2 separate regions of the Homo sapiens genome follow, and region 1 is linked to region 2. The links come from fine-mapping of genetic effects on gene expression. A gene starts in region 2. The other region holds a variant in brackets. All regions are shown on one strand. Distances are from middle to middle. Region 1 overlaps CNOT2 (CCR4-NOT transcription complex subunit 2). Region 2 holds the start of CNOT2 (CCR4-NOT transcription complex subunit 2).

What was found. PIP is the estimated chance that this variant, and not a neighbour inherited with it, causes the effect.
Region 1: its variant is the best candidate, but not a certain one, in a credible set for the expression of CNOT2 in whole blood (INTERVAL, PIP 0.63).

Annotation. Positions count from the first base shown.
Region 1 is chr12:70,295,768-70,301,158 of GRCh38, forward strand. The region is part of intron 2 of CNOT2 (CCR4-NOT transcription complex subunit 2); the gene reads left to right. Among named protein-coding and RNA genes, the nearest start is that of CNOT2, 55 kb to the left of the region's middle. The variant A/AT (reference allele first, on the strand shown) is at 2,928.
Region 2 is chr12:70,241,057-70,246,447 of GRCh38, forward strand. CNOT2 (CCR4-NOT transcription complex subunit 2) reads left to right here and starts at 2,377. Exons shown (of 16, transcript NM_014515.7): 1 at 2,377-2,424. PRANCR (progenitor renewal associated non-coding RNA) reads right to left here and starts at 2,304. Exons shown (of 5, transcript NR_120460.1): 1 at 2,256-2,304; 2 at 1,768-1,837; 3 at 1,125-1,173. RefSeq lists enhancers at 1,663-2,862, 2,037-2,236, 2,967-3,106 and silencers at 1,796-2,335, 2,407-2,666.

The DNA of each region.
Region 1 (5,391 bases), 55 kb after region 2:
CTTTTTGAATAATTAGAATTTTGGTTTTAGGATGATGCACTTAGCTTTTAAAGCTTATATATTAATTGTTCAAATGTGAATCTATATAAAGCATATTGGTGCAGCACATTTTAAGATTCTAGAAAACCACAAAATCTGTTTATTCATGTTGAAACATACAGAACATATTCTCCCTAGATCAGAGTCAAACTTGTGGAGGTATTTGTAGCATTTTGGTAACACTCCCTAGAGAATTTGTAGACTTTGGGGGTGCATATTAAGGGATAACATACATGGCTTTTCAGAATATTTTCTGAATAAAGCAGCTTCAGACACCAGATTTTAGTTTTTGGATTAGGAAAGAGTGATGTGTTTTTCCACCCTCCCCTCCCCCACCAACACACACACACATACCCTCCCCATCTTTCAGATATAGGCCATCTTGTTTTATTGGATGAGCCCCCCAAAAATACACAGAAATATGCTAAATATTTCTGTAAACCTTGGAAAGGACTCTGCCAGGATATTTATCTACTCTCCAAAATAGTGATTGTGGAAGTGTTTGTATAGGTCCCTAGCTTTCTACTAAAGCCTATTTCCAACCAGTCATAGATTTTTGTGTGTGTGTGTATCTACATGTTAACTATCTTTGGTATTCATTGAGGCCTTTTTTGCTTATTTATGGTTATTCTGCATTGGCTAAAACAATGAGTTGCTCTTATTTGTTTCCATGCTATCGATTTGATGATTTGTAATTCTAGACTTTAAAATTTATCTATATCTTCACTTTTCTTAGATCCATCCTAAGCAGATTCATGAACTTTTCATTATACCTATATCATATTAAAAATATGAAACCATAGTATTCTAGAACTCGGAGGACTTGAATTTGTTTCTCACATGAAGAGTTTTTTTTTTTTTGGTAAAGATTTCCAGGTATTAATATCTTTGTTCTTTAAGAAGCTAGAATTTTTTTGTGCAGTGTAGGTGCCTTTCTGTCCTTTATTTAAGCCCCCCCCCCTTTTTAAATTGTTTTTCAAGAATTAAATAAAATTAGAATTATTTATAGTAGTTGCGAAGCAGGATAAGCAGTTTAAAATCCTATCACAAAAAATACTACTGAAACAAAAATATCTTTGTTAACAAATATTTCCAGGTTGTAACAATATAATATTTGATATACGAATATTCTACTTCCATAGAATTTGGGCAGTCTGTGAGATTTTTACCTATCATGTTTTCCCTCTAAAGGGCAATTATAAAAACGCTAGATTATCTTCAGGTATTAGGACTCCTCATCATTGGTTTCAGATGTTAATTGGCTACACCTTGATAAAAGGCAGATAAGTGTTAATGGCAGTTGGCTGTGATTTTATATTAAGTTTCTGCCTATTTTATAGCCAAGAACTTGTGCATATTTGTATATTGTTTGTTGATATTGAATATGGAATTCAGAGAGAAAATAAGAACTCAAATTCTAAATTACTCAGATCTCCATTAGGAAAACAGTGCCTGAGAAACACTTTTTCCCCCTTCTCAGGTACTGTATATCTTGCAGTTAGCAGTCTTCATCTTGTATAATGCAAGCAGACTACAAACTCTGTAGCTGGGAGTGAAAATTTGTTACTCAGTATGAAGCAGTGAATGAGACAATTGATTTTATCGTGTGACACCTGTACCAACATGTTAGCAGTAAAACTCCTCCCTACATTAGAGAATCTACAATAAAAAGTTGCTACTAGGGAATTGTTTTTGTTTTAACACAAGTTCTAGATGTGCCCTACATATGTAATGCTATAATGTCTACATTAGAGCTATTATAATGAAATTAAGAGTTTGGTTATAATTATCCTAATTCCTTGAAAGGTTAAATTGTGTTCACTATACTTAAGTACCTAAAAATGTTAGTTCTTTGGGAACATGGAAACCAGGTATATATAGCTTTTAGTAGTTATTTCTACTTATCTGAAGCCCTCCTTGGATAATAATTTTTTTTTGTTTTCATTTTTGAGACGTGGTCTCACTCTGTCACCCAGGCTGGACTGCAGTGGCGTCATCTTGGCTCACTGCAACCTCCGCCTCCCAAGTTCAAGTGATTCTCCTGCCTCGGCCTCCAAGTAGCTGGGACTACAGGTGCGTACCACCACGCCCAACTAATTTTTGTATTTTTAGTAGAGATGGGGTTTCGCCATGTTGGCCAGGCTGCTCTTGAATTCCTGACCTCAGGTGATCCACCCACCTCAACCTCTGGGAGTTGAGTGGGATTACAGGCGTGAACCACTGCACCTGGTGGATAATAATTTTTAATTGGTATAATAGTATTTCTTTTAAGCATAACTTCATTTTCAAATTAATGCAACTTTCTGTAAAATACATGTGATTAGTCTTGTAGAGACTGGCTTTTGTCTCACATGTCTATAATCAGTCATAATCAGTCCATTCTTGTTCTTGTGCTAAAGTGATCTTTTTGACACACATAAATATTCGATTGTGGTATACCCTACTTACCATTGTTCACAATATAAGGACCTTCCTCCTCCAATCGGCTTTTTATTTGCTCCTTACTGCTTTTCCCTTTACAAATTCAAGAACAAAACACACATTAAATTGTTAGTTGTATATTTGAGAGTCAGTGTACTATCATGGTTAAAAAGGGGGACTCCAGCAAATTGGTCTGGGTTCAAAACCCATCTCCGCATTTATCAGATATATAACCTTAGGAAGTTAACCTAACTTCTCTGGTCCTTAGCTACAAAATAGGGATAGTTAATTGTTCTTACTTTCTAGCGTTATCTTGATAATTACATAAATAAATTTTAAAGCATTTAGAATATTCCCTGGCACAATAATTTATTATTATTTTATAGTTATGATAAAGTGTTTTCAGAGACTGTATAAAACAAGAGTCCTAATTTAGTGTGAAAGTTTCAAAGAATGGGAGAAAGGGC[A/AT]TTTTAAGTAGCCGTATCAGCATATGCAAAGACCGGGACATGGAAACTAACTTCTGTTCTGAGTAACTGAAGGTATGGCAAGGGTTTGGTGGTGTCAGGGGACTTAGGAGAGAAGTTAGAGGTTACAAAACATCTTATAAGCCTTATTGATTTGGGAGTGCTGTTGAGGAATTTTTATCAGAAAGTCCATGAAGATAAATAATTTTTACTTTAAAAAATCACTTTGATGTGGGAGAGTAGAATTGAGGGGAAGAAGAATAGATTAATAAAGACCTGTTTGGAGGCTATTGGAGTGGCTTGTTCTAGTGTATTATTAGTCCGTTCTCATGCTAACAAAGACGTACCCGAGACTGGGTAGTTTATAAGGGAAAGAGGTTTAATTGACTCACATGGCTGGGGAGGTCTCACAATCGTGGCAGAAGGCAAATGAGGAGCAGTCACGTCTCACATGGCGGCAGGCAAGAGTGAATGTGTGCAGGGGAACCCCCCTGTATAAACCACCAGATCTCATGAGACTTATTTTTTTTTTAATTTTATTATTATTATACTTTAAGTTTTAAGGTACATGTGCACAACGTGCAGGTTTGTTACATATGTATACATGGGCCATGTTGGTGTGCTGCACCCATTAACTTGTCATTTAGCATTAGGTATAGCTGCTAATGCTGTCCCTCCCCCCTCCCCCCACCCCCCAACAGTCCCCGGTGTGTGATGTTCCCCTTCCTGTGTCCATGTGTTCTCATTGTTCAATTCCCACCTATGAGTGAGAACATGCGGTGTTTGGTTTTTTGTCCTTGCGATAGTTTGCTGAGAATAATGGTTTCCAGCTTCATCCACGTCCCTACAAAGGACATGAACTCATCCTTTTTTATGACTGCATAGTATTCCATGGTGTATATGTGCCACATTTTCTTAATCCAGTCTATCATTGTTGGACCTTTCGGTTGGTTCCAAGTCTTTGCTATTGTGAATAGTGCTGCAGTAAACATAAGTGTGCATGTGTCTTTATAGTAGCATGATTTATAATCCTTTGGGTATATACCCAGTAATGGGATGGCTGGGTCAAATGGTATTTCTAGTTCTAGATCCCTGAGGAATCGCCACACTGACTTCCACAATGGTTGAACTAGTTTACAGTCCCACCAGCAGTGTAAAAGTGTTCCTATTTCTCCACATCCTCTCTAGCACCTGTTGTTTCCTGACTTTTTAATGATTGCCATTCTAACTGTTGTGAGATGGTATCTCATTGTGGTTTTGATTTGCATTTCTCTAATGGCCAGTGATGATGAGCATTTTTTCATGTGTTTTTTTGGCTGCATAAATGTCTTCTTTTGAGAAGTGTCTGTTCATGTCCTTTGCCCACTTTTTGATGGGGTTGTTTTTTCTTGTAAATTTGTTGGAGTTCATTGTAGATTCTGGATATTAGCCCTTTGTCAGATGAGTAGATTGCAGAAATTTTCTCCCATTCTGTAGAAGCCTGTTCACTCTGATGGTCGTTTCTTTTGCTGTGCAGAAGCTCTTTAGTTTAATTAGATCCCATTTGTCAATTTTGGCTTTTGTTGCCATTGCTTTTGGTGTTTTAGACATGAAGTCCTTGCCCATGCCTATGTCCTGAATGGTATTGCCTAGGTTTTCTTCTAGAGTTTTTATGGTTTTAGGTCTAACATTTAAGTCTTTAATCTATCTTGAATTAATTTTTGTATAAGGTGTAAGGAAGTGATCCAGTTTCAGCTTTCTACATATGGCTAGCCAGTTTTCCCAGCACCATTTATTAAATAGGCAATCCTTTCCCCATTGCTTGTTTTTGTCAGGTTTGTCAAAGATCAGATGGTTGTAGATATGTGGCGTTATTTCTGAGGGCTCTGTTCTGTTCCATTGGTCTGTATCTCTGTTTTGATACCAGTACCATGCTGTTTTGGTTACTGTAGCCTTGTAGTATAGTTTGAAGTCAGGTAGCGTGATGCCTCCAGCTTTGTTCTTTTGGCTTAGGATTGACTTGGCAATGAGGGCCCTTTTTTGGTGCCATATGAACTTTAAAGTAGTTTTTTCCAATTCTGTGAAGAAAGTCGTTGGTAGCTTGATGGGGATGGCATTGAATCTATAAATTACCTTGGGCAGTATGGCCATTTTCACGATATTGATTCTTCCTACGTATGAGCATGGAATGTTCTTCCATTTGTTTGTATCCTCTTTTATTTCATTGAGCAGTGGTTTGTAGTTCTCCTTGAAGAGGTCCTTCACATCCCTTGTAAGTTGGATTCCTAGGTATTTTATTCTCTTTGAAGCAATTGTGAATGGGAGTTCTTTCATGATTTGGCTCTCTGTTTGTCTGTTATTGGTGTATAAGAATGCTTGTGATTTTTGCACATTGATCTTGTATCCCGAGACTTTGCTGAAGTTGATTATCAGCTTAAGGAGATTTTGGGCTGAGATGCTGGAGTTTTCTAGATATACAGTCATGTCA
Region 2 (5,391 bases):
TTCTAAAGGAGCAGCAGATTTAGGGAATGAACAAAGGGGATTCAAATGTTGTTTCAGACACATTAGAGAAGCCTGTCCTTTTTATCCCTTGCCATGGCAAAATTTTCAATACCATCCATATTTTTCTAAAAATGGGTGGCCTCCTTCTTCTACAAGTTATACACAAACTCATTCTTCCCTTAATAGGGTATTTTTTTTCCCTCAACGTCTGTAATTTTTAAATAAAGTGTACAGAGAATTTAACATAATACATATTTTGGAAATATACAAAACATGTGCCTATTAGTAAGGACTACTTTTCAGGTAAAAGTAAGAAAATCTAGTAAGATAGTTAAAAGAAACCAAACTACCAAATGGGCAAACTTAATCAACATTACCAATAAAGATGAACTTTTTGATGCAACAGGACAATTTAAAAAATATACCATCTATTGGTAAGAACTCTTACTATAAGAATTCTTACTATACAAGCCTTTAACAAATGCTAGCTCATTAAATACCTAGAGTACCCTCTAAGGTAGGTATTAAAAATTTTTTAACAAATTTATAATAGATTTGGCACAAATAATAGGACAATTAAAGGCTTGTTCTTCAACCCGGCTTAAAGTGAATTCATCCTAAACAAATAGGTGTTCAGTGAGAGTCAAAGTAAGTAGTATCAAATATTGAAAGTAATAGTATCAGTGTATTTTCTCCTAACACTCCTAACCCACACATTTATTATGAAAATGTTTGTTGTTCTATCTCTTCCAGTAAAATACTCAAGGTAATAAAACTCTCATATCAGACTTACACCCTCTGGAAGTCATTCCATAGAGGTATATTCAATCTTTTAACACACCATCTTATGGTTGAAGATGTTAACATGAGAAGGAGGAGAAAGCAGGAAGAGGAAGGGACTATTTGCAGAAGACGGGGAGAAAGAAAGGAAAGACACTAGTATGTGTTGTTCCTCCTCGAATTTTCCTGAAGTGAAAAAAAAACAGTGAAGTAGAGTGTTTGATGAAATGAATAACCAAGCAAAACATTTTCTACCTACACCAGTACCACTAGGAGTTGAAATAAATTCACACAATGTCTGCTGATATGTCAAAACACCTTACCTTCAAAAACATGACAGTTACCTTTTATTTTATAGTATGCTTGTGTTTCTTCCTATTTCTTGCTTTTGACCTTCAATGATAAATGTAAACTGGATTACAGTGATTCTTTTGTAAGTAAAAGGTGACTTTTTAAAAGAAACAACCAATGGAAATAGAAATTTTATTTACTTCAAATTAACTGTACTTTACTCAAATAGAAAAGAATAATTTTCACATTATGAAGCTACACAATTCCAAAATACACATGCTGAGGCTCTTTTTAAGTCCGAATTGTCTAGTAATTACAAAAAAGTGAAGAGTTTACAGATATACAAGGAAATAAAGGCGAATTATTGCAAAGAAAACAAGTTTAATTTCACTTTGAATGACAACGATTTTTCTGGAAAGCAGATACTTCACTCCTTTAAGTTTCCACCCAAGCCACAATAATTTCAAACGGTCTTGCGGATGACCCAGCTGGTCACTCTTGTTTATGTGGGGACTGGAGGTAATGAGAGCCAAAAAAAGTGCTATAAACCTAATTTGGCTAGAGCAAGTTCACACGACACGACCGTGCTTTAAAAACTTGCTCTCCATTATGTACTTCCTTCCATCAGGTTGGGGAAAAAAAAATGGTGGGGATGGTGAGTAAACACACCAGTGGTTTCATCAGAGGGGAACTCACTACTCAGGAGGTGACGGTGACGTGGTGCCGGTCCCTGAAGTACGCGCACAAGCTCCGGAGGTTGCGGGAGCTGAGGGAGGAAACAGGGACACGATCAGATTCGCTCCAGGTGGCGGGAGTGAGGAGGGGAGGAGTGACGAGGCGGACGTGCGGGGGCGGGGGTGTCCAACACAAACACAAACACAAACACGAACACGAACACGCTCAGCGTCCCCGGGGAGGGCGGACTGAAGCCACCTCACCATTCATCGCCCCTGGACCCCGCAGTCCCCCTCGGACTCAGGGCCAGAGCCTTCTGCGAAGCAACCTAGCCCCAGGGAAACGGTAGCGGCCGCAGAAGCCCCGCTCTCTGTAACGGCCGCGGAGGAGCAGCAAGCCTCCCTGTGAGTCGGTGGGAGACAAGACGGAGCGGCGGTAAGGGCGGTAGGGAAGTGAAGCGCCTCTCTCCACCTTGTTAGAAGCGCGCTGAAAGCGGCCTGCCTACCCACCCCATCGCTGCCGTTTTGCAGTCGTCGCTCCCACCTTCCGCTGCCGCCTGGAGGGAAGCCGGAGCGACGGGGGTCACGGCGGCGGTCAGAGGGTAAAGGTCTTGCTCCCAGCAGCCTCCGCGGTGGATACGTCGCCATCTTGGATCCGCGGGACAAGAAAATTCATGCGGTGAGTTTTTGGTAAATTTTCGGAAGTCTGGCAGCGGGGCGCGCGGCGGGGGCGGCAGATTCGGGGCCCCCGCAAGGCGGGGGAATGCCCCGGGGCCGGTCCGGTCGCGCCCAGGGTCCGCCGGTAGCGTCCCGGCCCACCGCTTCCCGTTGCTTTTGTCTCGGCTCCAATCGAGAGACGGAGAGCGGAGCGGGCGGGGAGGGGGGTGGCGGCGGTGGAGGGAGGGAGGGGGTGTGTATGGGGGTGGTGGTGGACCGGACGTAAAGCGTCGCTGTACTCGGGCCGCTGCAGCAGCAGCAGCTCCAGATCCTAGGCCCGGTCCCATCCGCGAGTGGTGGGGCTTCCCCAGACTCCACTCCCCTAGGCTCCCGCCAGCGCGGAGGAGCCGCTGCCGCCGCGCTGCTTCCTGGGGGAGAAGAGAAGGCGGCAGCGGCCGTGGCCGTGGCCGACGAGCTCGAGCCCGCTTTAGACGGCTCTGCCGCCTTCCCGGCAGCTGGTGCTGTCTGTGGCTTCTTACCTTCTCTCAATACACGTATATCATCTGCCAGTTATGTGTATTTCTGTTAGTGTGTTTGCAAGTGTCAGATGGGAGACACTGGACTGGCTAACGGGTGTCAGGATCCTGCAGGCCCTGGGATACCGAAGGCTGTGCATGGTGGAGGGAGAAGGAATGCAACTGCGATGCCGCCTCTGCCACCGCACCAGGAAGGTGAAGCTTCCGTAGTGTCGTAGACTGAGTCCGGATGATCCTGGGGCGGCGGAGGAACCACAGACGCTTCTGTCTGTGAAGTTGCAAGTCCTGGGTTTCTACTTCCGCAGGGGCCTCTCCACCTTTTGCTGTCGTAGGTCTCGCTTAAAAGTTTAACAGAAGAAAAGAGTAGGGTTAAAAGAGGCCTTTGTAGTTCTTCATTGAAGCACTGTTGTCTGTCCGGGTGAAAGCTGATAACTCTTGGTAACTGTGGTCCTTAGCAAAAGAGAATTGGAGTTTTCTTTTATACAAAGTATTTCCAAGGTTTTAGACCTTATATTTATTCCAGGCCTGTAGGTACGGTATTACTACCACAAAAGTCTTACATTAAGGGTACCACCCTCTCAGAGGGAACCTAAACATCAACTTCCTTCGAATCCTTGGAGACATCTTCACTTTTCAACATCCGGAAGACTGAGTGCAACATATTTTGTTTCATTTTCATAAAAGTCTTGGTCAGAGAATCCCACTCCTTTTAAAATCGTTTGGGCAATTCCTCATAATTAAGTACACTGCTTTGAACCCTTAGTTCTTGGCGAAATGGTAAAAAGTACTCAGTTAAAATCAGTTCACGAGGGAGGCCAACTTGAATTTAAGGTTCAAAGTTGAACATATTTAGTGTCATGCTTAATATTAGGAATTTTTAGAGCTCGGAATCATAAGTGTGACTGTTGATTTCCCTTTTGAAGCAATATAAATGGAAAGAATAAAGTATGGGGTGAGGGATGAGATAGAAATTTTAAAGTATCCATTTACATGCAAGGTTGATGTTGAGTTTGGGAATGCTTGGCATAATTGACAACAGTTCTTTCCAAACGTCAATGAATAAATCTCACAATTTTGTAAGGTAACTATTGCAGATTGAAAGGGTTAAGAATCATAGTTGGCTGAAATGGTTAAGTGTCTATATTCACATCCCAGTTCATTGAAATGTTTTATAATGGACCAAGATAATTAGTAAGCTCTGTATGTTGAATTTGTTTAGTTTGTAGTTCTATTATAATGTTAAATCTAAAGAAAAAAATACAAAATACACTTAAAGACAAAACATGTTCCACTCTACTCACTTATTTCTTGACTTTGTAAGATCCTTACTGTAAAAAAGGTACTTTTCTCTCATATTTTCTGAGAGCTTGAATTGTAATAATTTTTGTGAATACTTTGTATTTTAGAGAGGAAGTGAGAAACTGCTGAAGTTTTTTTTGCATCTTGATTAGTGCTTTATCAATACAAATAAGTTAATGTAAACATTTGTTGGCAGGAATCTTTTTCTAAGTATACAATGTAGAGATATCTGTAACCTAATCTGATCTCAGGGAATGAGAATTGCCTGTTTAACCAAGCAACAAATACAGCCTATACAATTTTTCAATTTCTATAATACTTTAATTTACATGGTGGAAAAATGAGGGCAAAATGCTTGTGTATGAGTGATTTATATCCCCAAGTACCTGCTCTTGAAGATAAAACTCAGATTGTGGCTTATCTTCTGATGCTGGGCAAAAAACAAAAACAAAAAAATTCAGAATGATACAACTTCCCATATACCTCCCTACAAGAACTAATTACCTTTGTTTTTGCTTTATAACTTTGGATGTTGCACTTTTTGATTTTTCAGAGATGCTTTACAGTTATTGTAATCTGAAAATTATTTGTTCAAAAGTAAATAAAATTTTCAGGTGTATGAATAGATTTTATTAGAAGTGATTCTAACCCAGTTCTCATTTGTATTCCTTTAGTAGATACTGGTGTTAAAAGTACCTGTATTTTGAAAGACCATTACAGAATTTTTTACAACCTGTATAAGTTATAGTTTTATCTTTTCTAGTGACAGACTTACTTCATAAGATTTTCTGATAATATGAATAAAATGTATGCTTCACATGTATATATGAAATAATGAGTAAGCATTAATAGACCAATGAAAAGAACTTAGCTTACAATTTATTTTCTTGCTCTTTAAAAGCAGTGGTAAATAATAGCTTTTTTTTGTTGTTAAAATTTGTAACTGTAGAAAGTTCATTCTGTTGGGATCACATATTTGAAGGCAAACTAACAATGCCATGTGCTTGCTTGAATAGGCATTTGAGGACAGGTTATTTTCCTGAGATTTCAGGAAAATATACCACCAAACATTTATGATGTTATTTGTTACCTGGATCTGTAGTGGATTTTGTAACACAAAGAGGCAGAATATCCAGGGTACCAGGTAGGGCAGT